Linked DNA regions of Homo sapiens. The protein of the gene in region 1 purifies or fractionates together with the protein of each later gene. This does not show direct contact. Each region holds a gene or a part of one and is shown in the gene's direction. Other genes may lie near its edges.

Region 1 (3,500 bases):
CTAGTAAAACCTTGGATTAGTCAACCTGTCAGGGCCTTGGCATCTTTTTTTGTAATATGGTCATGTGGTTATACTTGTAGATAGTCTCTAAAGTCCTTTTAAGTTATAAAATTTGGATTCTTAATTGTTAAAATATTCCTAAAATGACTTCTTAATCACTTTGGAAAATATGTTGATTTTGTCTTATTTTTTAAATTTAGTGTCATGATACCCTGGTGCAGTTTGGTGGGTTTTTAGCATCTAATCTGAGCACAGAAGATTATATAAAGCGAGTGCCTTCAATTGATGTACTCTGTAATGAATTTCATACACCCCATGATGCAGCATTTTTCCTGTCTAGGCCAATGTATGCCCATCATATTTCGGTAAGTACAAGTGTCTTTGCTGCCGCTCAAGAACGATCCAAATTATTTCTTAACGGTTTTATCTGTAAGTACATATCACTACAGATTTTGGGGGAAGGTCTTGGCCCTAAACTAGGATCCCTTCTTTGTTTCCAATAGGGGTACGAAGCTGTGTGGTAGAGGTATACAAAAAAGGTGATGAGAAATTTGGAGTCTAATTGATCATTTAATCAAACATCTGCTGTTAGTGTTTACATATCAACTGCTACAGTCTCCCACTTCTTTCCTAACTAACTGCTACTTGATTTAATTATCACTTTGTTAGCACTATGCAGAAATTCCTGTGTTATGTATACACTCTGAAGGGAAAAAGACAATAAGGGAGTGGTGTTAGGCTGCTTCTTCCCCTTTAGATCCTCTCAATCCAGAGAATTGTTTGCCGTCTTTGTGTAACGTCTTACTGTTGTCACACCCCATGGTAGATCAGTCTCAGCTGTGCAAGAGGGTACCTGATTTCTTGACAGACAGAGGTGGGAGAATTTCTTCATCTTAGGAATTCTGACCTGCCCTGTGCTAAGTGAACACACTAATCAGCAATATGGAATCCTAGCAAACAGGAACACCTGGTTGTCTGTGGTTGGCTGAACTTTTCCAGCTCAGAAAATGGAGCAGGTCATTCAAGCTACTTTTTCTCTCTTACTTGTGTAAAATATTACCTTTGTCTTTTAAGAGATACAAAAACCTAAACAAAGAAATGGCATTTCCCTCTCAGGCTTGGAAGAAAACAGAAAACTAAATGAAAGTGGCTGTATAGCCAAGTCAGATATAAGTCTTTTATCTGTAGGCAGCATGCCACTCTCTGGAAAAGGTGTTTCCCAGCAATCTTGTGGTTGTGCTGGATGGGCATCCAAGCTGTCCTGGGGATCCTTGCTTTTGCTTCTTGAGTGAAAGCCTCTGTTGAAGAGCCTTCGTTGAGAGAGTGAAAATGTATATTAGGTGATTGCTATGTCCCCTCTATAAACTATCAGCAGGCTCTCTTGAGGATAATTCAGCCAAACGCTGCCCAGATTTTTTTTTTTTTTTTTTTTTTTTTTTTGAGATGGAGTCTCGCTCTGTCTTCCAGGCTGGAGTGCAGTGGCGCAATCTCAGCTCACTGCAACTTCCACCTCCCGGGTTCAAGCGATACTCCTATCCCAGGCTCCCAAGTAGCTGGGATTACAGGTGCCCGCCACCACACCCAGCTAATTTTTGTATTTTTAGAAGAGATGAGATTTCACCATGTTGGCCAGGCTGGTCTCAAACTCCTGACCTCAGGTGATCCGCCTGCCTTGGCCTCCCAAAGTGCTGGCATTATAGGCATGAGCCACTGTGCCTGGCCTGCTCAGATTCTTGAGACGAGATTTTTGAACAATAGTGAGAAGTACAGCAATAATTGTGGATATCAGTTCTATTCCATAAGTCTAGTTCCCCAGGCAATTTGAAATGTAGAACTGTTATGTCTCTTCATTTGACTGAAGGTGTGAACTTGAAGTGGGAGTTAAACTGACTTTAGACAAGGACATATTCATCTTGGGTAAATACGAAGTATAGCCTTCTTTTCTGACCAAGCCTATTTTTCTAACTAGATAGTGACTATGGGGTTCCTAGCAATAGAAATCACAGATTCAGACCCAGAGGACTGGGGAGATTGGAGCTATCATGTAACCCTCTCATACCTATAAACTAATTTTTAGTTTTAATTGTTGAGGTTGTGGTCCACCTTGAGACACAGGTCTGAAAGATAGGCTTTTAACCTAGTTCATATTCTAGATCTTGCCCAGAACAGGTAATTAGGCTGTCTTTTATGCAGATAATGTCAGCCCTATTTTATCCCGTTTTGTTAGAACCTTAGCAGAAGTCATTCTGCTCATCTAGATTCATATTAGTTACCTTCAATAAGACCTGTCCTCTAAATTAAAAAACACTCTCTGTTTTCCCAACTGCTATTCCCTCAGGTTTCTGATGCAATTGGGACTCCTTTTTCGTAACTAATGTTCTTTGTAGCTTTGTCACTTACGTGGTCTCAGTGGTTGTCAGCATGCTCTCTAAAATGGGGATAACAGAGCATAAATCTTCCCACTTCTAGAACAATTGTAAAATTCTAGAACAATTGTAAAATTGAGCACTCAGGAAGGAAGGCAGGTAACTGAGCTGTAAGGAGCTGAGACTCTTTTGCCTATCACAGTGTAGAACTGGAAGCAGAACCTTTGATCATCTCGTTTTGGGTTACGTGTTTAGCACAAATAGAATGATTTAAGTGATTTTCTAACGTAAGGAAGTAACTAGTTTTAGGACTTCCTTTAGGTTCGTATGAAGGGTGATACCTAACTTAAACAAAATTTTCTGGATGAGAGCTCTTTCATCCTAAAGAGACTGAAGGATGTGAAACAATAGCAGCAACTCTGTGTTATCTTCATATATATGTGTGTGTGTGTGTGTGTGTGTGTGTGTGTGTGTGTGTGTTCATGTATAATATATATGTTCATATATATGTTATCTTCATATATATAGAATATATAGAAAAAATATATATATTTTTGTGTGTGTATATATATGTATAATATATTTGGCATACACATCTCTGCAGCCCCTCCCATTGTACTAACAATTTTTTTTCCTCATACAATTAAGAATATGGCATTCCTCTGTTTTTTCCCCCAAATTAGGATAAACCAGTCAAACGAAAGAAGCTGCAGCATCAGTTCTCACATGCTTTAAACTTCAATATACCACAGCTTTTCACAGAAAAATTTATTTGGCTTAGCAGTAGAGTAACCAGTTGGTCCTGGTTTGCCTGGGATGTTCCCAGTTTTAGCACTGAAGTCTTAAATCCTCAGAAATCCCTGAATCCCCAGCAAACCCTGACAATTGGTCACCCTACTTAGCAGTCTTAAAACAAATTTCTCATAACTTTTCTTAGTGTTGATCCAGCTTTTTTTTTTTTTTTAATTTTTATTTTTTGAGACAGTCTCCTTCTGTCATCCAGTCTGGAGTGAAGGGGCATGATCTCAGCTCACTGCAACTTCTGCCTCTGGGGTTCAAGTGATCCTCTCACCTCAGCCTCCCAAGTAGCTGGGATTACAGGCCTGCGCCACCACGCCTGGCTAATTTTTTGTA
Region 2 (3,500 bases), on another chromosome or scaffold:
GTGGTTGCATGGGGAAGTGGGTTTGTGCATGGTTTATGTCAGACCAGGCTTGATAATTAAGTCTAATTAGCCAGGCAAGGAAGATGGTGGAAGGGGAGGGAATTTTCTGAGTAGAGAGAATAGCACATGCAAAAGTTTGCAGATAAGAGCTTGATTTTATTCAAGGAACTCTGGATAGTTAGGTTTAGTTCTAAGAGGAAATGGAATGGGAGATTGGAGTTTTGGGGGAGGTGGATAGGATATGATGCTAGAAATGTACATAGATCCAAATTATGTAAAATGGTATGTGCTATGCTGAAGAGATTGTCATCTTGCCTTGACTTTAGGACAGATTTCTCTATTTCTGCAAAAAATGTTGGGATTTTGGGATTTGGGATTTTGATAGGTAATGCATTGAATCTGTAGATTGCTTTATATAGTATTGACATCTTAACAATATTGTTTTGTAGTCCATGAACACGGGATACCTTTCTATTAGTGTCTTCTATATTTCTTTTTTTTTTTTTTTTTTGAGACAGAGTCTTGCTCTGTAGCCCAGGCTGGAGTGCAGTGGCGCGATCTCGGCTCACTGCAAGCTCCACCTCCTGGATTCATGCCATTCTCCTGCCTCAGCCTCCTGACTAGCTGGGACTACAAGCACCCGCCACCACGCCCGGCTAATTTTTTGTATTTTTAGTAGAGACGGGGTTTCACTGTGTTAGCCAGGATGGTGTCGATCTCCCGACCTCGTGATCCGCCCGCCTCAGCCTCCCAAAGTGCTGGGATTACAGGCGTGAGCCACTGCGCCCGGTCTATATTTCTTTTTAAGATTTTTTAATTTTTAATTACTAATTTTTAGAGATGAGGTCTTGCCTCATTGCCCAGGCTTGAGTGCAGTGGCACAATCATGGTTCGCCGTAGCCTCAAATTCCAGGGTGCAGGCAATCCTTCCGCTTCCACCTTCAGAGTAGCTAGGACTACAGGCATGCACCACCGAACCTGGCTAATTTATTTTTTTATAGAGACAGGGATCTCATTTTGTTGCCCAGGCTAGTCTCAACTCCTGGGCTCAAGCAGTCCTCTGACCTCATTGGCCTCCAAAAGTGCTAGGATTACAGGTGTGAGCCACCACACCTGGTCATTCTATAATTTCTTTCAGCAACATTTTCTGATTGTCATTGTACAAGTTTTTTGTCTCCTTGGTGAAATGTATTCTTAAGTATTTTATTCTTTTGATGCTACTGTAAATAGAATTGTTTTTTTAATTTGCTTTTCAGATTGTTCATTGTTAGTGTATAGAAATACAACTGGTTTTAGTGAGTTGATTTTATATTCTGCAACTTTCTTGAAACTCTTGATTTCTATTTTTGTTTTTTATGTTTTGAAACAGAGTCTCACTCTGTCACCCAGGCTGGAGTGCAGTGGCATGATCGCAGCTCACTGCAACCTCTGCCTCCCAGGTTGAAGCAGTTCTCCTGGCTCAGCCCCGCAAGTAGCTGGGACTACAGGCACGCACCACCACTCCTGGCTAATTTTTGTATTTTTAGTAGAGATGAGGTTTCACCATGTTGGCCAGGCTGGTCTTGAATTGCTGACCTCAAGCAAGCCGCCCATCTCGGCCTCCCAAAGTGCTAGGATTACAGGCAGGAGCCACTGTGCCTGGCTATTTATAAGCTATTAATTTAATAGAAATAAAATATTTGACAGATTTCTTCTTCCTATTCTTTGGTGTTACAGGATCTTCATGAAATCCCTATTTTACAGTGAGGAAGCATCAAGAAACAAATGGTATACTCTTTAATAGGAACAATATGCCATATTTATCAAATTATAGAATATATAAAGCTTGCAAATATTATGTAGTAGATAATTCCTTTAAAGTGTACTCCTCATGGTTATGTTCTAATCACATTCCCACAAAAGTTTCTATACTCTGAATAACTTTAAGGGAGGAATACAGTAATTGTTGGTGTATATGATAAGGTCCATGTGTTTTATGAATATTAGGTATTGGATATATGAGCTCATAAGAGAAGATAATCTTTGGTACGTTATATTGATCATGCCACTTTCCCAATTTCAAATAACTTATGGATTCTTAAAGGTATTAAATGAATAAGTACTATTTTTTAAGTAGATATGTCATTTTAAAACATTTTGGTTTGGGCCATGCCTTCGTCAATATGTTCCACATAGTTCCATATAAAATTAGAGTCTCTATATGATAACATCAAAGACATGCCTGAAGGGAACTTAATTTTTTTAAGGAGGTGGGGAATCCATTTGTAGAAACCAGTGTAAGAAGCTGTTTGAAAGACATCAAACATGGACTTGTCTGGACTTTGCAGGTTTTAAGGTATATATAGGAATCAAAATTGACTCATGACTTTTAAAGCTTCATGTCAGTAAAAAATAAAAGAGAAATGTTGGGAATGGTAATATTTGAGATATATAGTTTTTACTTAGCTACAGAAATGTACCCATAGGAACTTGCTTGAATCTGAATGCTCTGCTACACGTGTTTAGAATTATTTTTGCCTCTTTTGCCAAAACATAATAAAATGATAGCAAAATATGACAGTATGTGCACTGATCACAACAATATAATAAACTGCATCCATGTCTTTTAAAACTAGGCAAGAATAGACAAAATGCTCTAATTTCTGTTGGAGACTAGCAATATGCAAACCAGACCATTTTTGTTGAAAAATTCTGGAGACATTTATGACCGAGTTTTTATATCCTTTAAGATAATTTTATCCTTTCATGATTGTATCATTTCATGATATGTTCCTTTTGTGACAAATGCTGCTAGTATCAGTGTCACAGATTGTTACTGATGATATACAGTGTTTATGCTTTAAATTCCGAACTCACAGAATTTAATGGAAACTTCAGAATTCTTTAAATTTCAAAAGTTTTAAAGCATATTTATTTGGGTACAAAATTTTATTGCCTTTAAAAATCTTTTTCAGTATCAAGTTTATTATCAAAAGCACAAATAATAAAATAGAATTTAAAATATTTATTTTCAGAATACCACTATTTTAATAAATGATCTTTTGCCTATGCCAGCGTCTGCTATTAACATCTAGCTAATATATTTTCTGTGTCTAGTAAATATGGTAATCAGTTTCAAAGAAAACTAGGTAGGTTTTGTGAGGCAAAGTTGAAACACCTTGAAGAAATGGGAAAGTTTGGGGGCTCTAATAGGACAGGATAAATATTTCTTGATTCATTTTTTAATTGCTCCATTTATTTTCTATACATAGAATCAAAAATTCTAAAAAGAGAACATTATCTTAAGACTGCACAAATTAACAGTGAAAGGAATTGTCCCACTCATTATTAAGAATGCTGTCAGGCTGGGCACAGTGGCACACACTTGGGAGGCCAAGGCAGGAGGATTACTTGAGTCCGGGAGTCTGAGACCAGCCTGGACAACAAAGCGAGACCCTGTCTCTACAAAAAACATTTTTTTAATTAGCTAGGCATGGTGGTGTGTGCCTGTGGTCCCAGCT
Region 3 (3,500 bases), on another chromosome or scaffold:
GAGCTATGACAACCCAAAATGTCTCCATCCATGGCCAAATGTCCCGTGGGGGCAAAATTACTGGACTGAGAACCACGGATGTAGACCTGTGTAACAGTGTACTCCATGAAGGAGGGGAAAGGTGGCCTTTCTCCTTATAACCTGGTAGGGAACTTTCTCTCTAAAACTATTTGCCATACTCAGTTTGTTGGCTATAGAAATTGATCTACAGTTTCAAAGATTTTTGTTGAAAGATTTCAATAGCAGCCATTGAGATTTTAAGGTGCTGTTTGCAAAGGAGTTTACAAGATAAAACAGTCAGCAGCTCACAAAAGGAACTCATCACGTGAGACTCTGAAGCCACATCCCACTTAGACCATTTCACAAGTCCACTTTTAGAGTAACAAGGCCCTCAATGAGGGTGATAGCACCGATGATCAGAAAGGAAGACATGTTAATAAAAGAAGACTTGAGAAGATGTGGGAATTATCTTGAAATGGAGGAATTAGATGGACTACACATTTTCTAAATGAAATAGCTTAGTGATAGGCAAAGATTGGGACATCTGGAGAAAAAGTAATTTAGGGTGACAGAAGAAAGGTAATTCTGTTTTAGACACGTTTTAGGTATTAATAAAACTTACAACTGAAAGTGTCTTAGAAGCTGGTCAGAAATGGGTCTAGAAAGTGGACCAGTGCTAAAGCTATGGTAAAAGGAAAACTTCATCTGAATTAAATTTAAAGGAGTTTAATTGAGCAGCAAATTGGGCAGCCCCCAGAACCACAGCAGATTTGGAGAGACTCCAGGGATGCCTTGTGGTCATAACAAATTTATAGACAAATGAAGGGAAGTGACAAATCGGAAGTGAGGTACACAGTGGCTGGATTGGTTACAGATTTGCAATTGTCTTATTTGAACACAGTTAGAACACTCAGCAGTCCATGAGTGGTTGAAGGATGGCTGCTGGGATTGCCCAAGACGCAGCTACTGTTACAGGCGCATACTCCTAAGTTAGGCTTTCAATCTTGTCTACCTATTAAGCTAGGTTACAGTTCATCCACAAGGACTCAAATATAGACATACGGAGTCCTTCTCAGGCAATATTTAGTTTGCTTTAAGAGCTATAAATGCTAGCCAAAACCATAAATGGGTATGGGGCATCGGAAGGATAGTGAAGAAACAGGAGTGGACAAGTCAGCCTTTGGGGTACAGTTCAGACCATCCTGGGTAAATGTTGAGAAGCAAAGAAGCAAAAGGAGACTTAGTAGGATATCAGAGGAAATTCTGTGACATATGTGTTTTATTCAGAATTGGAGCAAAAGAAGGAAAAGGATATTTAAAAGCAAACATACAGAATTTGTGTCACATAAAAAAAACAAACCTGTGAGAGCAGAAGCGGTGTGTTTTGAGAAGTGCAAGACATGGCAGGGCCAGCTAATGGAGCTGGTGGAATGCATACTGAGGAGGTTGTGAACGTGGTTCATGCTCCCTTCACTCAATTTGGTAACCCCCTGTCCCCAGCCAGTGTTGAATATGCAACCCCTGATATGGAACTCTGGTCTTTTGGCATCTATTTAAGTGTTTCTTCTGACTATCTTCCCTGAAAAAGAGGGTGAGTTGAAGAAATTCCCAATGCCTGTTAAGTTGTTGGACCCAAGTAATTATGTGATTAAAAAAAAATTTAAACTCCATAATAGTCCTATCTTTTAAAATTTCTTTGAAAATAGAAGTGAGTGTCTTGTTTCATTTTTGTCCACTGGTAATTTGGGAAAGAGAAATTGTTGACTTGGCTAAGGTCACAATAAAGGCAAGCCCAACTCCTTTACCTTATATTTATTTATTTATTTTTTTGAGACAGAGTTTCATTCTTGTTGCCTAGGCTGGAGTGCAATGCGTGATCTCAGCTCACTGCAACCTCCTCTTCCCGGGTTCAAGTGATTCTCCTGCCTCAGCCTCCCAAGCAGCTGGGATTATAGGCACCTACCACCATGCCCGGCTAATTTTTGTATTTTTAGTAGAGACAGGATTTTACCATCTTGGTCAGGCTGGTCTGGAACTCCTGACCTCACGTGATCCATCCACCTAGGCCTCCCTAAGTGCTGGGATTACAGGTGTGAGCCACCTCACCGGGTGGACACAGTTTCTAATGGCCGGCATTTGCATGTCTAAGCTTGCTGTCCCAGCTTGAAGAGCCGGGCTTTCCTGCTAGACAAGAAACGTTCCTGGAGCTGCTTTAAAAGAAACAAAAACTTCCCAAGGACACCTTTTCCTCTCTATAGGCCTAAAATAATTTTTTAATAACTCCCATAATGAAAGTCGGGGGTGGCTTCCAGGCTATAGGTAAATTTAAACATTTTCTGGTTGACAATTGGTTGAGTTGGGCTAAAAACCTGGGGTGAATAGAAAGGAATGTCTGGGTTGTGATAAGAAGTTGTAGAGACCAAAGTTTAATCATGCAGATGAAGCCTCCAGGTAGCCGACTTCAGAGAGAATGGATTGAAATGCTTCTTATTAGGCCTAAAGTTCTGTGTTGATGTTCATGCTGGTGAGGTATAATGAGGTATGTTCGACCCCCACTTCCCATCATGGCCTGAAACAGTCTCTCAGGTGAAATTTTAAGACCCCTGGCTAGGGAGGAAGTCTGTTCAGCTGGTTTGGGGGGCCTTAGAATCTTATTTTTGGTTTACACATGATTAAAAAATACTTTAGCTCCATAATAATCCTATCTTTTAAAATTTCTTTGAAAATAGAAGTGAGTGTCTGGTTTCATTTTTGTCCACTGGTAATTTGGGAAAGAGAAATTGTTGACTTGGCCAAGGTCACACTACAGGCAAACCCATTTCCTTTGTGTTGATTCCCTTGCCTTGTGTCTTGTCTTGGCTTATTTAACCCTCTTTTGAGGGAATCACTATAATTCTTAAAAGGGCAAGGCATTGTTAGGAACTCCTAAAGACTAGAATGAAGAATCAGAGACTGGTAGATGGGAAAGGTTGCGTTTTTAGCAGTTTTGGAGAATACCTAGAACAGAAGCTATTATTTATGGAGAAAGCAAGCAGAGGTTGGACAGATTCTGGTATAGAAGTTTTGGCTTGGGGATATAAAATTGGGATCAACTTAAAATCTAATCCATTGGTACACTGCTAATAAAGGCATACCCAAGACTGGGTAATTTATAAAGAAAAAGAGATTTAATGGATTCGCAGTTCCACGTGGCTGACGAGGCCCCACAATTGTGGTGAGGAAGGTGAGGGAGGAGCAAAGGCACGTCTTACATAGCAGCAGGCAAGAGAGAAGTGCAGGGGAACTGCCCTTTATAAAACGATCAGATCTTGTGAGACTTATTCACTATCACGAGAACAACACAGGAACAACCCGCCCCCATGATTCAGTTACCTCCCACTGGGTCCCTCCCATGACACATGGGGATTATGGGAGCTACAATTCAAGATGAGATTTGGGTGGGGACACAGCCAAACCATATCAAGCAGGTATGAACAATTTGGCTTAGGAAATCAAAATCA
Region 4 (3,500 bases), on another chromosome or scaffold:
GGTTCAAGCAATTCTGCCTCAGCGTCACGAGTAGCTTGGATTACAGGCACGTTCCACCATGCCCAGCTAATGTTTGTATTTTTAGTAGAGACGGGGTTTCACCATCTTGGTCAAGCTGGTCTCGAACTCCTGACCTCAGGTGATCCACCCGCCTCAGCCTCCCAAAGTACTGGGATTACAGGCGTGAGCCACCACACCCAGCCAAAATTTTTTTTTAAAAAAGAATTTTCATTCTTTTTCCTTTCCTGGTCCTGAATAAATATTCAATCAAGTCTTTAGACTGTTGGGAAGAATGAATTGGAGAAACAGGGAGACCAGATGAATGAAACCAGACCCTTCGTCCACACATCTTGATTCCCTCTATGGTGGTGTCTTCCTCCTTCCCCAAATCATTGACTGTCCTGTCTTCCAGGTGGAGGCCACAAGCAGGAAAGAAAAGGCCAAGCAGAGGCCCCTGGCCCTGAACACTGTGGAGATGCTGCGTGTGGCCAGCTCTTCTCTGGGTATGTAGGGACATTTCTCTCAAGTCACCAGAAGGCTTCCTGAGGCAGGTTCAGCCTGGAGCAGCGAGTGCCCAGGGTTGCAGGATGGTGCCCAAGGCTTCAAGGGGATCTGAGCCTCAGGAGGATTTCACTTATCCTTAGGTTGTAAAGGTGGTAAAGTTGGTCACCACCTGAGGGGACCTCCTGATGTTAGAGTCCCTGAGCAGCTATCCCTGGTGAGGGGAGAGGCCCCAGCCAGATGTCACCTTCAGGGAACCAGTGTGAACGTCGCCCCTCAGCCTCATCTCCTCAGTCTTTTCTCCTTAGTAACGAGGAGGGGGTTGGGCTGGAAAGCTGGTGGTCTCTGGCAGCTGTCAGCCCCTAGGCATTGGTGCCCCCCACCCCCGCAGGGAACTATGGGCAGTGTCCTCTCAGTGGACACTGAGTGGTGGCTCCAGCGTCCTCAGAGGGCAGCAATGCTGGGAGTGGTTGCTAGCTAAGCGCCTGCCTCTGCTGGTCAGGGAGTAGCAGGACGAGCCCCCCTGAGTGGCCCCAAAGTGCTGTGAGGACAGAAACACCCAAGGGCTCAAAATGGGGCTGCGTGCTAACTCTGTCGTCAGCCAACCCCGAGGTATGGTTATGGCTCCATGGACAATGCATGGGGAGTGGTGCTCTGAAGGCCATGTGTCATCCCCATGGCCATGAGCCCCATGAGGATGCACCGTGGGGTAGAGTGAGTGGCGTTTCCCATCAGGCCCATCCTGGGTGTAGGATTCAGCCTTACGGGTGCGGGATTCAGCCTCATACAAGACTGTGTGGCATAGGTGCCCACCCGGCCAGCAGCTTTGCACTCCAGCTGTGCCTGCTCAGAGCCACCGTCACCCTCCAGGAGGGGCCGGCCACAATGGGGGAGCCTGAGTGCATAGGCCAGGGCAGGCAGCTGGCCATCCCCACGTACCTGGCCCTCTGAGAACCTCCTGTCTCTCGCAGGCATGGGGCCGCAGCACGCCATGCAGACGGCTGAGCGGCTCTACACGCAAGGCTACATCAGCTACCCACGGACAGAGACCACCCACTACCCTGAGAACTTTGACCTGAAGGGCTCTCTGCGGCAGCAGGCCAACCACCCCTACTGGGCCGACACGGTGAGTGGAGCCGGGCCGGCCTCAGCATGTGTGTGTGTCACTGAGGCCTTGGGACCAGGTCTGGTACGTCAGCCAAACCCAGGCAGGCAGCCGAGCCCAGCCACAGACTCTGCTCTGTCTTCTCTCCCTCAGGTGAAGCGGTTGTTAGCAGAAGGTATCAACCGCCCGCGGAAAGGCCATGACGCCGGCGACCATCCCCCCATCACCCCCATGAAGTCTGCCACAGAGGCCGAATTAGGTACCGCTCTCATCCCATACCCGGTGTGCTTCCAGGGAGGGAAGGGCGAGCTGCGACAGTGAAGGTTGCAGGCCCTGTTGGCAATGTGGGGGCTCCTTCAGCCTCTGCCTGCCCTGGCTGTGGGGATGGGGGGCCACCTGGAAGATGAGCTCCATTGCTATGGGACCAGGACAGGAGTGAAGAGGTAGCAGCAGGTGCTGTTGCAGGGAGGCAAGGGGGCAGACGCCACAGGGGACATGAATGAAACCAGGGTAGAGAGTGGCGGTGTGGGGGAGGGGGCAGCACACCTCCTACCTCCCAGCTGGCCTAAGGTGGTACCAGTGGTCCGAGTGCCAGGAGAAGGCAAATGAGGAAGGGAGAGCAGTGCAGGTAGAGACAGGAGCCACCTGTGGACAGTCTGAGTTTGAAGCAATGGTGTCATGTCACGAGACAATGGAAAGACAGGCCAATGCCTGAAGAGCAGTCCCGCCAGAAGCAGGGACAGGAGGTTGTGCAGGATGGTGGGAGCCGCAGCCAGAAAGAAACCACTGAGGCATGGAGGCTTGTGTTCCCTTCCTCCGCATTTGCTTTTTTTTTTTCTTTTTTTGAGACAGAGTCTTGTTCTGTCACCCAGGCTGGAGTGCAGTGGCCCGATCTCGGCTCACTGCAACCTCTGCCTCCCAGGTTCAAGCAGTTCACCCTGCCTCAGCCCCCCGAGTAGCTGGGATTACAGGCTCCCACCACCACACCCAGCTAATTTCTTTGTATTTTTAGTAGAGACGGGGTTTCACCATGTTGGCCAGGCTGGTCTCAAACTCCTGACCTCAAGTGATCCATCCACCTTAGCCTCCCAGAGTGCTAGGATTACAGGCATGAGCCACCACGCCCGGCCTTCCTGCACATTTTCTTTCCTCCTTCCCCAGGATTTGCAGTGTGTCCTGCACAGCGGCTCTGTAAGCAGGAGCTTGCTGCTCGAGCGAGAGTACTGGGGGCTCCTCACGGCCAGAGCCCCCAGCTGGCTCCCAACTGACTAGCCCTGGCCTGTTGCAGGGGGTGACGCGTGGCGGCTCTATGAGTACATCACCAGACACTTCATCGCCACGGTCAGCCATGACTGCAAGTACCTGCAGAGCACCATCTCCTTCAGAATTGGGCCCGAGCTCTTCACCTGCTCCGGGAAGACCGTCCTCTCACCAGGTCACACCACGGGCCCAGCCTTCCTCCTCTGTGCCTTCATGGGCAGACAAACATTCTACATCGTGTCTGGGGATGGGAGGCCCAGGGTCTGAGGCCCCGGCCACCCAGGCTGGGGACCCTGAGTGGCGGCGCATATCTCTCCAGGCTTCACGGAGGTCATGCCCTGGCAGAGCGTGCCCCTGGAGGAGAGCCTGCCCACTTGCCAGCGGGGTGATGCCTTCCCTGTGGGCGAGGTGAAGATGCTGGAGAAGCAGACGAACCCACCCGACTACCTGACGGAGGCCGAGCTCATCACGCTCATGGAGAAGCATGGCATCGGTGGGTGCGCCTGCCCAGGCCCCAGAGCCGGCTCCGTCTCCAGTACTCAGGCTTCGAGTCTACTCACAAAGCTGCCCCGCCAGCCCTGTGTGCCCAGCCCAGCACCCCTCCATGGGCTGGTATCTGGAAACTGGTGACCCA
Region 5 (3,500 bases), on another chromosome or scaffold:
AGCTGATTCTGAAATGCAAACAACTGATGGGTGTCATTTTGTGTTGTCAAATTCTGTACTCTCTGGCCGACCTGTTGTAGCCAATGTGTAAACTTGTGTTAAGAAGCTGATGGTAATGAGCTACTCTAAAAAGATTTAAGTTTTGCTGTGGATTTGGTGGGTGTACTTACAGCATTGCCCTGCTTATCCACTCTCTCGCTTTTTTTTGTGACCCCCCTTCCTAAAATGAGGTAAACTGTAGCCATCAGTTTTTTTATTTGTTTTCTTTTTTTGAGGCGAAGTCTTGCTCTGTTGCCCAGGCTGGAGTGCAGTGGTGTGATCTTGGCTTACTGCAATCTCTGCCTCCTGGGTCCAAGCGATTCTCCTGCCTCAGCCTCCCAAGTAGCTGGGATTACAGGCGCCCACTACCATGCCAGGCTAATTTTTTTGTATTTTTAGTAGAGGCGGGGTTCCACCATGTTGGCCAGGCTGGTCTCGTACTCCTGACCTCAGGTGATCACCTGCCTCCTCGGCCTCCCAAAATGCTGGGATTACAAGCGTGAGCCACCGCGCCTGGCACCATCAGTTTTTGATCCTGATACTTGTCTGTCCTCTTGGTTCTCCTCATCCCTAATTTAACCTTGAACACAAAATTCAACAGGTTTTGGCATATAGAATAAAGATTATCAGGCAAAGGCGCACTCTTGACCTAATGATATATCTACATTTCATTTCCTGATCTATCAGCAATATTAATTGTCTAGAATGATGAGAAGTTTAGAGAAGTTCCATGACTTTGAAATTTTCTTTCTTTACCTAGGTTATCTAAATTACAATTTGAAACTCATATAAGATCATGAAGCTAAGCTTAAATAAACCGCATTTTGTTGAAAATGAATACATATGTACTATATTGTATTCATGGTATGTGGTTGTATGGATATTGTTTACATATGTTTGGATAAATAGGTTCAGGTATCTATCTCAGTAACGTAAGAAAAAATGAATGGTATCTATGGATTGAACTCCTCATATATATGTTCTTTTCTTTTCTTTTTCTTTTTTTTTTGGAGACAGAGTCTCACTCTGTTGCCCAGGCTGGAGTGCACAGTGGTGCAATCTCGGCTCACTGCAACCTCCGCCTTCCGGGTTTAAGCAATTCTCCTGCCTCAGCCTCCTGAGTAGTTGGGATTACAGGTGTGTGCCACTATGCCCGGCTAGTGTTTGTATTTTTAGTAGAAACGAGGTTTTACCATGTTGGCCAGGCTGGTCTCAAACTCCTGACCTCAAGTGATCCACCCACCTTGCCTCCCAAAGTGCTGAGATTACAGGCATGAGCCACTGCGCCCAGCCTGAACTCATATGTCCTAAACCAAAGGAGGCATTTATATTTAATATGACATAGTCACTGTGGAGTTTTGACGTATTACTGCATTTGTATTTCTATCTTTTTTGCTTTTATGTGAAAGTTCCACAGAAACAGACACTTCCAGTTGCTCCCAGAACTCGAACTTCTCAAGAAGAATTGCTAGCAGAAGTGGTCCAGGGACAAAGTAGGACCCCCAGAATAAGTCCCCCCATTAAAGAAGAGGAAACAAAAGGAGATTCTGTAGAAAAAAATCAAGGTAATAACTTAAATGATGTTTCACTCTTTACTACAGTTTTTTCATGAGGCATTGAATATTTTCCAATGGATTTTTATGAAATATTACACTATGAAAAAAGTGATGATTAAGCCCAGAAATAGAATGAGAAGAATACCATGAGGAAGGTTCATACCAACACTTCAGAAAAAAATTTTTTTTTTAAAGAGGTAGGGTCTTGCTGTGTTGCCCAGGCAGTCCTCAAACTCCTGGGCTCAAGCAGTCCTCCTGCCTCAGCATCCTTAGTAGCTGGAGGTGTGTACAAGTGTGTGCCACTGCACCCAGCCCTTTCTAGAAATTTTTGAAAGTCTTTTTATTGTGGAAATTTTTAATATTCTCAAAAATGGAAAGGCTAGTACAGTGAACTCTCATGAACCCAGTCATTAAGCCTTAGTTATTATCAGAATTTTGCTGGTCTTTAGATAGCTCCTTCTTAAAGATATATTTATTTCTGCATTCTTTCTTTTTCTCTTTTTGTTGATCCTGCCCGTTTACCTGAACTTGAAATTTTAGTTACCTTTAAATCTCCCGTCTCTTAAGCATCCTGTCTCTGACCTCCCATATGTGTCCCAGCAACCCTAATTTATCCCCTCGTGCCTAACATACTTCAGTTTGCTTCCAGGTTTTTTTTTTTTTTTTTTTTTTTTGCTTTTTTCTCAGCTTTCTCCCCCAATTCCTATACAATCTTTTGACTTTGAAAGTGTGTCTCTCATCTTCTGACTCCTTTGTGAAAGTATCTCTCCCCTCCTCCTCATTACCCAGAACTAACGCTATTAGTTTGGACTTTTGGTGTCTGTTATCTGACCCCTGGGCCTGCACAGCCCTTCTCCATGACTCTTCAGACCTTTTGTCTCTTTTGTCGTCAAGAAGGATTCTTTTTTCTTCTGTTTCTTTTTCTACTAAGATTTGAATTTTAAGACCCCACCAAAAAAATCTATATGCTTATTATGTTATTTCTCACATACTTTTCAAGAACCTTGGAATATATTTTTTCATTTCTTCAAAACTGTCCTTTAAATTGTTCCAGGTTTCATGAAACCTTATGATTTCAGAATTGTCAATTCTGTATTTGTTTCCTCATTGTGTCTCTTTAAAAATTTTTGACTGTATTGTTCAGTTTGCCATGACAGCGTTATATACTATTCTGATAATTGATAGGCCTGAGGACAAGACCTGTTTGGTCCCCAAACAGCAGATAGGTACCAATTGGAAAATGTGAATGGGCCAAATTGAGAAGAGGAGCTGAAACTGAGGAGGGATTTTGCTCAGTGCAGTGGCAGATGAGGCTGATCTAAAAGGACTGCAGTGGTCTACTCCCTGTGGAGTCTGTAGTGTGTTGCACCAAGGTTTTCTTCAAACACAGGACTCTACGTGAGAGTCTTGGAGTGGAATCAGATGGAGCAGGGAAACAGACAATAGAGAAAAGGAAAGAATGTCAGATAAAAATAGGAGAGGAAAACAATAGGAAATCTCAAAGCAAGGTGCCATATTTTTTAACATCACAAAATCAACAGAAGAAGGTTGTTGATTCTGAAGTTAGAATAGCTATCCAAAGCAAACTTTCCCCTAAAATGAACAACAGAAAAGTATCAAGGTCAAGTCCTGTGCCGAATTAAAAGATAAAAGGGAATAAAAGACAAAACAGCATTGTTTCAATGAAAGCATGCTGAAAGGTATACCAAAAAGAAATACAATTTCAAAGTGAGCTAGAAGACATTATTTAAATAATACAAGACAAAGCCAAGAAAAACATAAAACAGAAGAACTTTGAGGCTGGGTGCAGTGGCTCATGCCTGTAATCCCAACACTTTGGGAGGCTGAGGCAGGAGGATCACTTGAGACTAGCCTGGGCAGCATAGCAAAACCCTGTCTCGACAA
Region 6 (3,500 bases), on another chromosome or scaffold:
TGGTGTGATCTTGGCTCACTGCAGCCTGGACCTCCTGGGCTTAGTTGATCCTCCTGCCTTGGCCTTCTGAGTAGCTGGGACTACAGATGTGCATCATCACTTGCAGCTAATTTTTTTTTGGGGGGGGGGGTAAGGTTATAGATTAACAGCATCCCAAGGCAGAAGAATTTTTCTTAGTACAGAACAAAATGAAGTCTCCCACGTCTACTTCTTTCTACACAGACACAGTAACAATCTGATCTCTCTTTTCCCCACATTTCCCCCTTTTCTATTCGACAAAACCGCCATCGTCTTCATGGCCCGTTCTCAATGAGCTGTTGGGTACACCTCCCAGACGGGGTGGCGGCCGGGCAGAGGGGCTCCTCACTTCCCAGACGGGGTGGTGGCTGGGTGGAGGCGCCCCCCACCTCCCGAACAGGGCGGCTGGCTGTGCGGGGGCTGCCCCCCACCTCCCTCCCAGACGGGGCGGCTGCCGGGCGGAGACGCTCCTCACTTCCCAGACGGGGCGGCTGCTGGGCGGAGGGGCTCCTCACTTCCCAGACGGGGTGGCCGGGCAGAGAAGCTCCTCACCTCCCAGACGGGGTGGCGGTCGGGCAGAGACACTCCTCAGTTCCCAGATGGGGTCGCGGCCGGGCAGAGGCGCTCCTCACATCCCAGACGGGGCAGCGGGGCAGAGGCTCTCCCCACATCTCAGACGATGGACGGCCGGGCCGAGACGCTCCTCACTTCCTAGATGGGATGGCGGCCGGGAAGAGGCGCTCCTCACTTCCCAGACTGGACGGCCGGGCAGAGGGGCTCCTCACATCCCAGACGATGGGCGGCCAGGCAGAGACGCTCCTCACTTCCCAGACGGGGTGGCAGCCGGGCAGAGGCTGCAATCTCGGCACTTTGGGAGGCCAAGGCAGGCGGCTGGGAGGTGGAGGTTGTAGCGAGCCGAGATCACTCCACTGCATTCCAGCCTGGGCAACGAGCACTGATTGAGCGAGACTCCGTCTGCAATCCCGGCACCTCGGGAGGCCGAGGCAGGCAGATCACTTGCGGTCGGGAGCTGGAGACCAGCCCGGCCAACACAGCGAAACCCCGTCTCCACCAAAAAATACAAAAACCAGTCAGGCATGGCGGTGCGCGCCTGCAATCCCAGGCACTCGGCAGGCTGAGGCAGGAGAATCAGGCAGGGAGGCTGCAGTGAGCCGAGATGGCGGCAGTACAGTCCAGCCTCGGCTCGGCATCAGAGGGAAACTGGGGAGAGGGGGAGGGGGAGGGAATTTTTTTTGTATCTTTTGTAGAGACAGGGTTTTGCCATGTTGCCCAGGCTGGTTTCGAACACCTGGGCTCAAGCGATCTGCCCGCCTTGGCCTCCCAAAGTGTTGGGATTACAGGCATGAGCTACTGCTCCTGGTGTTTTTTATTTTTTAGAAGTTTTTTTCTTAACTCTTCCAGCTCTGCTGTTTACTCTTGACCCATGCTTATTTAATTGATGCTTGAACCAGGTACAGTGAAGTTCAAGTCCATTCCTCACCCCTTAGTAGCTCTTGGGATAGTTAATCTCCTTGGTTCTGAGTTTCCTCATTTATAAGATGTGAACAATAACCTGATTCACGGGGTTGTAACATTTAAAGGACGTCTAAAGCTGGGCATGGTGGCTCCATACTTAGAAGGCTGAGGCAGGAGGTCAAGGCTGTAGTGAGCTATGATCACTGCACTCCATCCTGAGCAGCAGAATGAGATTCTGTCCTTTTAAATTTTTTAAAATATGTTTTTGAGACAGGGTCTTGCTCTGTTGTCCAGCCTGGAGGACAGTATCTCGATCCTGGCTCACGGCAACATTGCAGTCTGGGGCTCAGGTGGTCTTCCTGCTTCAGCCTGTGGAGTAGACTCATGCTGCCATGCCCAGATAATTTTCTGCTTTCATTTTTATAGAGATGGAGTCTCACTATATTGCCCAGGCTGGTCCTGAACTCCTGGGCTCAAGCCATCCTCCTGCCTCAGCTTTCCAAAGTGCTGAGATTACATGGTGTGAGCCACCATGCCCAGGGAGTCTCGCTATGTTGCCCGTGCTGTTCTCGATCTCCTGGGCTCAAGCCATCCTGCCATTTGGCCTCCCAAAGTGCTGAGATTACAGGCATGAGCCACTGTGCCCAGCCTTGTTTCTTAAAAAAAAAAAAAAGTCTGTGTGAAAAATTGTCAACCTGTAGTGAGTAATACTCAGAAGTTTTCATTGATCATGTCCTTTATTTTTTTTGAAACAGAGTCTTGCTCTGTCGCCCAGGCTGGAGTGCAGTGGTGTGATCTTGGCTTGCTGTAACCTCCATCTCCTGGGTTCAACTGATTCTCCTGCCTCAGCCTTCCGAGTAGCTAGGATTATAGGCGCGTGCCACCACGTCTGGCTAATTTTTGTATTTTTAGTAGGGACGGGGTTTCACCATGTTGGCCAGGCAGGTCTTGAACACCTCACCTCAAGTAATCCATCAGCCTCGGCCTCCCAAAGTGCTGGGATTACAGGTGTGAGTCACTGTGCCTGGCCTAGCTGCAAGTTTCTGAGGTCACCCCAAAGCATAGTCCCAGTTTGTCTATGGCTTTGTAGGCCATGGAACACGAAGCCTAGGGTAGCCCAGTCCTAGGGAGGGTGGATGCCATCTACCACATACAACCATTTCTTTCTAATCGTGCATGCCGACCCCCTGAACACTCCCTTCCTTTGGCCCTGCTTTCTCTAGTGCCTCCATCTCCCAGAGTCCTCACATTAAAAAAATAGGACAGGAATGGCCAAGTAAACCTTAAGCCTTATCTGATTAATTGTATAAATGACCCTTCTACCCAGAACCCACTGGAAAATCTTTAAATCTGAATTTGCCACTCCAAAGAGAAAAATGATAGCATGCATCACTGCCTGTTTTAGTCCGTTTAGGCTACTATAAGAAAATACCCTAAGCTGGGTAACTTATAAAAAACAGAAACTGCCGGGCGCAGTGGCTCACGCCTGTAATCGTAACGCTTTGGAGGCCAAGGCAGGCGGATCACGAGGTCAGGAGATCGACAGCATCCTGGCTAACACGGTGAAACCCCATCTTTACTAAAAATGCAAAAAATTAGCCGGCCGTGGTGGCGGGCGCCTGTAGTCCCAGCTACTTGGGAGGCTGGCGCAGGAGAATGGCATGAACCCGGGAGGCGGAGCTTGCGGTGAGCCAAGATTGCGCCACTGCACTCCAGCCTGGATGACAGAGCAAGACTCCATCTCAAACAAAACAAAACAAAACTGAAGAAAAGAAACTTCCTTGTCACAGAGAGTCTGGGAAGTCCAGGATCAGGATGCTGGCAGATTCCATGTCTGATGAGGGCCTGCCTGCTTCCTGGTTGTAGATGGTCTTTTTGCTGAGTCCTGACATGGTGGAAGGGGCCAAGGAGCTTTCTGGGGCTTCTTCCTTATAAAGGGCACTAATCCCATTTGTGAAGTCTCTGTCCTCATGACTTAATCACTTCCCAAAGGCCACCACCTTCTA
Region 7 (3,500 bases), on another chromosome or scaffold:
CATCCACATGGATGTATCCAGTAATAGCTTGTTTATTAGATGAATTCTTACTGATGAAGTTAACCGATATAAGCTTTTTAAAAAGCATCACTCTGCTTCTTTACCTCTTTGACATATGGAATAAAATTGCAAAAGCTGATCACTTTAGTAGAACTCTCTTTTTTTTCTCCCTGTTTTTTGAGACAGGGCTTCTCGATCTGTTGCTGAGGCTGGAGTGCAGTGGCGCCATCACTGCTCCCTGGAGCCTTGGCCTGCCCTGGGCTCAAGCGATCCTCCCACATCAGCCTCCTGAGTAGCTGGGACTGCAGATACATGCCACCATGCCCTGCTAATTTTTTTTTTTTTTTAATAGAGACAGGGTCTCACCATGTTGTCCAGGCTGGTCTCAATTCCTGGCCTCAAGTGATCCTCCCACCTCAGCCTCCTAAAGTGCTGGGATTACGGGCATGCGCCCCTGTGCCCAGCCCTGGTAGAACTCTTAACATCTTAGTGGGAATTATTCAAAATTGAGAATTCTGAAATCTCAATTTGTTACTCAGTCTGGATGGCTCTTACTAGAACACTGAATCACAATGTATGTTATTTGTGGAAAAATCAAACTAGAAAGGGAGAATTCTTCATGAACACTTGTTAAACTGAAATTATTTTTATACTAAATTGAATAATAAAAACCAAAAATTATGGCCTGTGAGCTGGGTGCAGTGGCATGTGCCTGTGGTCCCAGCTACTTACGAGGCTGAGGCAGGAGGATCACATGAGCCCAGGATTCAGGGCTAACCTGCTGGGCAACATAGTGAGACCCCCATCTCTGAAAAAGAAAGAAAAGAAAAATTATGATCTGTTGTTATGGCATTCTGTTCTCTGTAAGGACAAAGTAGATGAAGTTGATGAGGTGTGAAGTTTCCTTATTCAGTTTCAAGTATTATTTATTTATCTTTCGTGGAAGATAAGTCAGCAAAAAAAACCTGGAATGAGGTTTTTAAAAAATGCAGTGGCTGGGCACAGTGGCTCATGCCTGTATTCCCAGCACTTTGGGGGGCTAAAGCAGGCAGATCACCTGAGGTCAGGAGTTATGTGGCAAAACCCCATCTCTACTGAAAATGCAAAAATTAGGCCGGGTGCGGTGGCTCACGCCTGTAATCCCAGCACTTTGGGAGGCCGAGGCGGGCGGATCACGAGGTCAGGAGATCGAGACCATCCCGGCTAAAAACGGTGAAACCCCGTCTCTACTAAAAATACAAAAAATTAGCCGGGCGTGGTGGCGGGCGCCTGTAGTCCCAGCTACTTGGGAGGCTGAGGCAGGAGAATGGCGTGAACCCGGGAGGCGGAGCTTGCAGTGAGCCGAGATCCCGCCACTGCACTCCAGCCTGGGCGACAGAGCGAGACTCCGTCTCAAAAAAAAAAAAAAAAAAAAATGCAAAAATTAGCCCGATGTGGTGACCGGTGCATGCCAGCAATCCCAGCACTTTGGGAGGCCGCTGCGTGTGGATCACCTGAGGCCAGGAGTTCGAGACCAGCCTGGCCAACATGGTGAAACCCCATCTCTACTAAAAATACAAAAATTAGCTGGACGTGGTGGTTCATGCCTGTAGTTCCAGCTATTTGGGAGGCTGAGGCAGGAGAATCGCTTAAACCTGGGGGGCGGAAGTTGCAGTGAGTCAAGATGGTGCCACTGCACTCCAGCCTGGGTGACAGTGAGACTCTGTCTCAAAAAAATAAAAATAAAAAAACAAAAAATGGAATGGCTGGAATTGCAGTTTTAACCATCATCTTTTGGGAATCACTTGATAGTACCTTTTGTGAAAGGGGACCTTCTCAAATAAGAACCCATCATTTACGTGAGACTTACATGTTAATTGGGTTAGCTAGGGCAGTTTTGAACTTGAATCTCTGAAAGATTGGAGGTAAGACTAGGGAATCTGTTAAACACTCGTTTATATAGTGTTTCATATTTATCAATACATCAGTTGAAGACATGGAATGTTAGAGGATTGAATATTTCATAGATAAATATGAAATTTTAATTTTTCGTACTTCACTAACTTCCTATAGAAAACAAAAGAAATTAGGTGCCGCAAACCACCATGGCACATGTATAGCTACATAAGAAACTTGCACGTTCAGCACGTGTCTCAGAACTTAAAATTAAAAAAAAGAATTGGTGACAGTCATAATTAAGAGCATTGTTCTGTGCATGAAAGAACAAGAAATAGAAGAGTATAAGTTTTTCTGTGGTTTGTATATTTTTTGAGATGAAGTCTGTGTCGCTGGGCTGGAGTGCAGTGGCGTGATCTCGGCCCACAGCAACCTCTGCTTCCCTGATTGAAGCAATTCTCATGCTTCAGCCTCCTGAGTAGCTGGGACTACAGGCGTGTGCCACCAAGGCTGGCTAATTTTTGTGTTTTTAGTAGAGACGGGGTTTTACCATGTTACCCAGGCTGGTCTCAAACTCCTGACCTCAAGTGATCCACTCACCTCAACCTCCCAAAGTGCTGGGATTACAGGTGTGAGCCATAATGCCTGGCCTCTATGGTTTATGTTAATACATAATGGTTTCTGAGTGAGGAAGGAAGAGAAAGCTGGAGGAGGAGATGTTATTTTTCAAACCTTTCTCTTTATTTTTGGTCTTCAGTTTATTTTACGTCTTCAGTTTGGCCTATGTGTGGTTTTTCTTTGTACTAATCCTATAAATTGTAAAGTTATGTTTTCACCAAATATAGGAAATAGCACTAAAAATGTGATTATTAATGTCTTCAGAAGATATATGGGATATTAGAGGATTGAATATTTGGAAGATAAAGTGGTTTGAAATTAACACGTGGTTATGTGCTATGCTTCGGAGGGAGGTATTTGTTAATCAAATCTCAGTAGCTTCATGTTAATAAGCAAATAATTCAGAGTTGTTTGTTTCTTGCACCTCATGTTTGCAGCCTATGAATTTAACTATTTTTGCTTATTTTTCCTCAAGATGTTTGAAAGTAGTTAAATGGCTTAGCATGGCCTATGTGTTTTTGTTGCAGAAATAACATTCCAGCTAATTTTACCAGGAGTGGAAATAAATTAAATCATCAGAAAGATACTCGTCAGGCAACTTTTCTTTTCAGAAGAGGCCTGAAGGTATTTAAAAACTTTGGCAGTGTTTTTGTTTGTTTGTTTGTTTTTTCCCAAAGAGGATCCTGAGCAGCCACCTTTAGTAAGCCTCAGTCATAGGCAGCATTGGGTTCAGGATGTGAGGCACGTGGTAGTAGATTAGTTCTTCCTGTTGTATGTTTTTTATTTCCCATCTTTTCTTACCCTCAATAGCAATGTCTTATAAGAATTTAACTCGTTATTTGGGAATAAACCTGTATTTGCCACTCGTTCTCATGTAGGAATTCCAACAGGGAACTGTTGCCAGAATAGCGTGGGCCCCTCTGCTGCACTCACGCACACACCCCACTGGGTTAGGAAGTTCTAGAATAGCACGGGCCCCTCCGCTGCACTCACGCACACGCCCCACT

What was found.
Region 2: the proteins of THOC2 (region 1) and RBBP8 purify together in Homo sapiens (affinity purification with mass spectrometry; one large-scale study listed by BioGRID and IntAct). This does not show direct contact.
Region 3: the proteins of THOC2 (region 1) and ACADSB purify together in Homo sapiens (affinity purification with mass spectrometry; one large-scale study listed by BioGRID and IntAct). This does not show direct contact.
Region 4: the proteins of THOC2 (region 1) and TOP3B purify together in Homo sapiens (affinity purification with mass spectrometry; one large-scale study listed by BioGRID and IntAct). This does not show direct contact.
Region 5: the proteins of THOC2 (region 1) and ZC3H14 purify together in Homo sapiens (affinity purification with mass spectrometry; one large-scale study listed by BioGRID and IntAct). This does not show direct contact.
Region 6: the proteins of THOC2 (region 1) and POLDIP3 purify together in Homo sapiens (affinity purification with mass spectrometry; one large-scale study listed by BioGRID and IntAct). This does not show direct contact.
Region 7: the proteins of THOC2 (region 1) and FYTTD1 purify together in Homo sapiens (affinity purification with mass spectrometry; one large-scale study listed by BioGRID and IntAct). This does not show direct contact.

What each region holds. Positions count from the first base shown.
Region 1 is NC_000023.11:123,628,553-123,632,052, reverse strand, and holds part of THOC2 (THO complex subunit 2), read left to right. Parts: intron 1-200; coding exon 201-365; intron 366-3,500. UniProt on the Homo sapiens protein: Component of the THO subcomplex of the TREX complex which is thought to couple mRNA transcription, processing and nuclear export, and which specifically associates with spliced mRNA and not with unspliced pre-mRNA.
Region 2 is NC_000018.10:22,939,828-22,943,327, forward strand, and holds part of RBBP8 (DNA endonuclease RBBP8), read left to right. Parts: intron 1-3,500. UniProt on the Homo sapiens protein: Endonuclease that cooperates with the MRE11-RAD50-NBN (MRN) complex in DNA-end resection, the first step of double-strand break (DSB) repair through the homologous recombination (HR) pathway.
Region 3 is NC_000010.11:123,015,506-123,019,005, forward strand, and holds part of ACADSB (short/branched chain specific acyl-CoA dehydrogenase, mitochondrial isoform 1 precursor), read left to right. Parts: intron 1-3,500. UniProt on the Homo sapiens protein: Short and branched chain specific acyl-CoA dehydrogenase that catalyzes the removal of one hydrogen from C-2 and C-3 of the fatty acyl-CoA thioester, resulting in the formation of trans-2-enoyl-CoA.
Region 4 is NC_000022.11:21,962,288-21,965,787, reverse strand, and holds part of TOP3B (DNA topoisomerase 3-beta-1), read left to right. Parts: intron 1-412; coding exon 413-503; intron 504-1,472; coding exon 1,473-1,627; intron 1,628-1,759; coding exon 1,760-1,865; intron 1,866-2,894; coding exon 2,895-3,041; intron 3,042-3,185; coding exon 3,186-3,359; intron 3,360-3,500. UniProt on the Homo sapiens protein: Releases the supercoiling and torsional tension of DNA introduced during the DNA replication and transcription by transiently cleaving and rejoining one strand of the DNA duplex.
Region 5 is NC_000014.9:88,576,537-88,580,036, forward strand, and holds part of ZC3H14 (zinc finger CCCH domain-containing protein 14), read left to right. Parts: intron 1-1,448; coding exon 1,449-1,604; intron 1,605-3,500. UniProt on the Homo sapiens protein: RNA-binding protein involved in the biogenesis of circular RNAs (circRNAs), which are produced by back-splicing circularization of pre-mRNAs.
Region 6 is NC_000022.11:42,604,884-42,608,383, reverse strand, and holds part of POLDIP3 (polymerase delta-interacting protein 3), read left to right. Parts: intron 1-3,500. UniProt on the Homo sapiens protein: Is involved in regulation of translation. Is preferentially associated with CBC-bound spliced mRNA-protein complexes during the pioneer round of mRNA translation. Contributes to enhanced translational efficiency of spliced over nonspliced mRNAs.
Region 7 is NC_000003.12:197,770,383-197,773,882, forward strand, and holds part of FYTTD1 (UAP56-interacting factor), read left to right. Parts: intron 1-3,020; coding exon 3,021-3,117; intron 3,118-3,500. UniProt on the Homo sapiens protein: Required for mRNA export from the nucleus to the cytoplasm. Acts as an adapter that uses the DDX39B/UAP56-NFX1 pathway to ensure efficient mRNA export and delivering to the nuclear pore.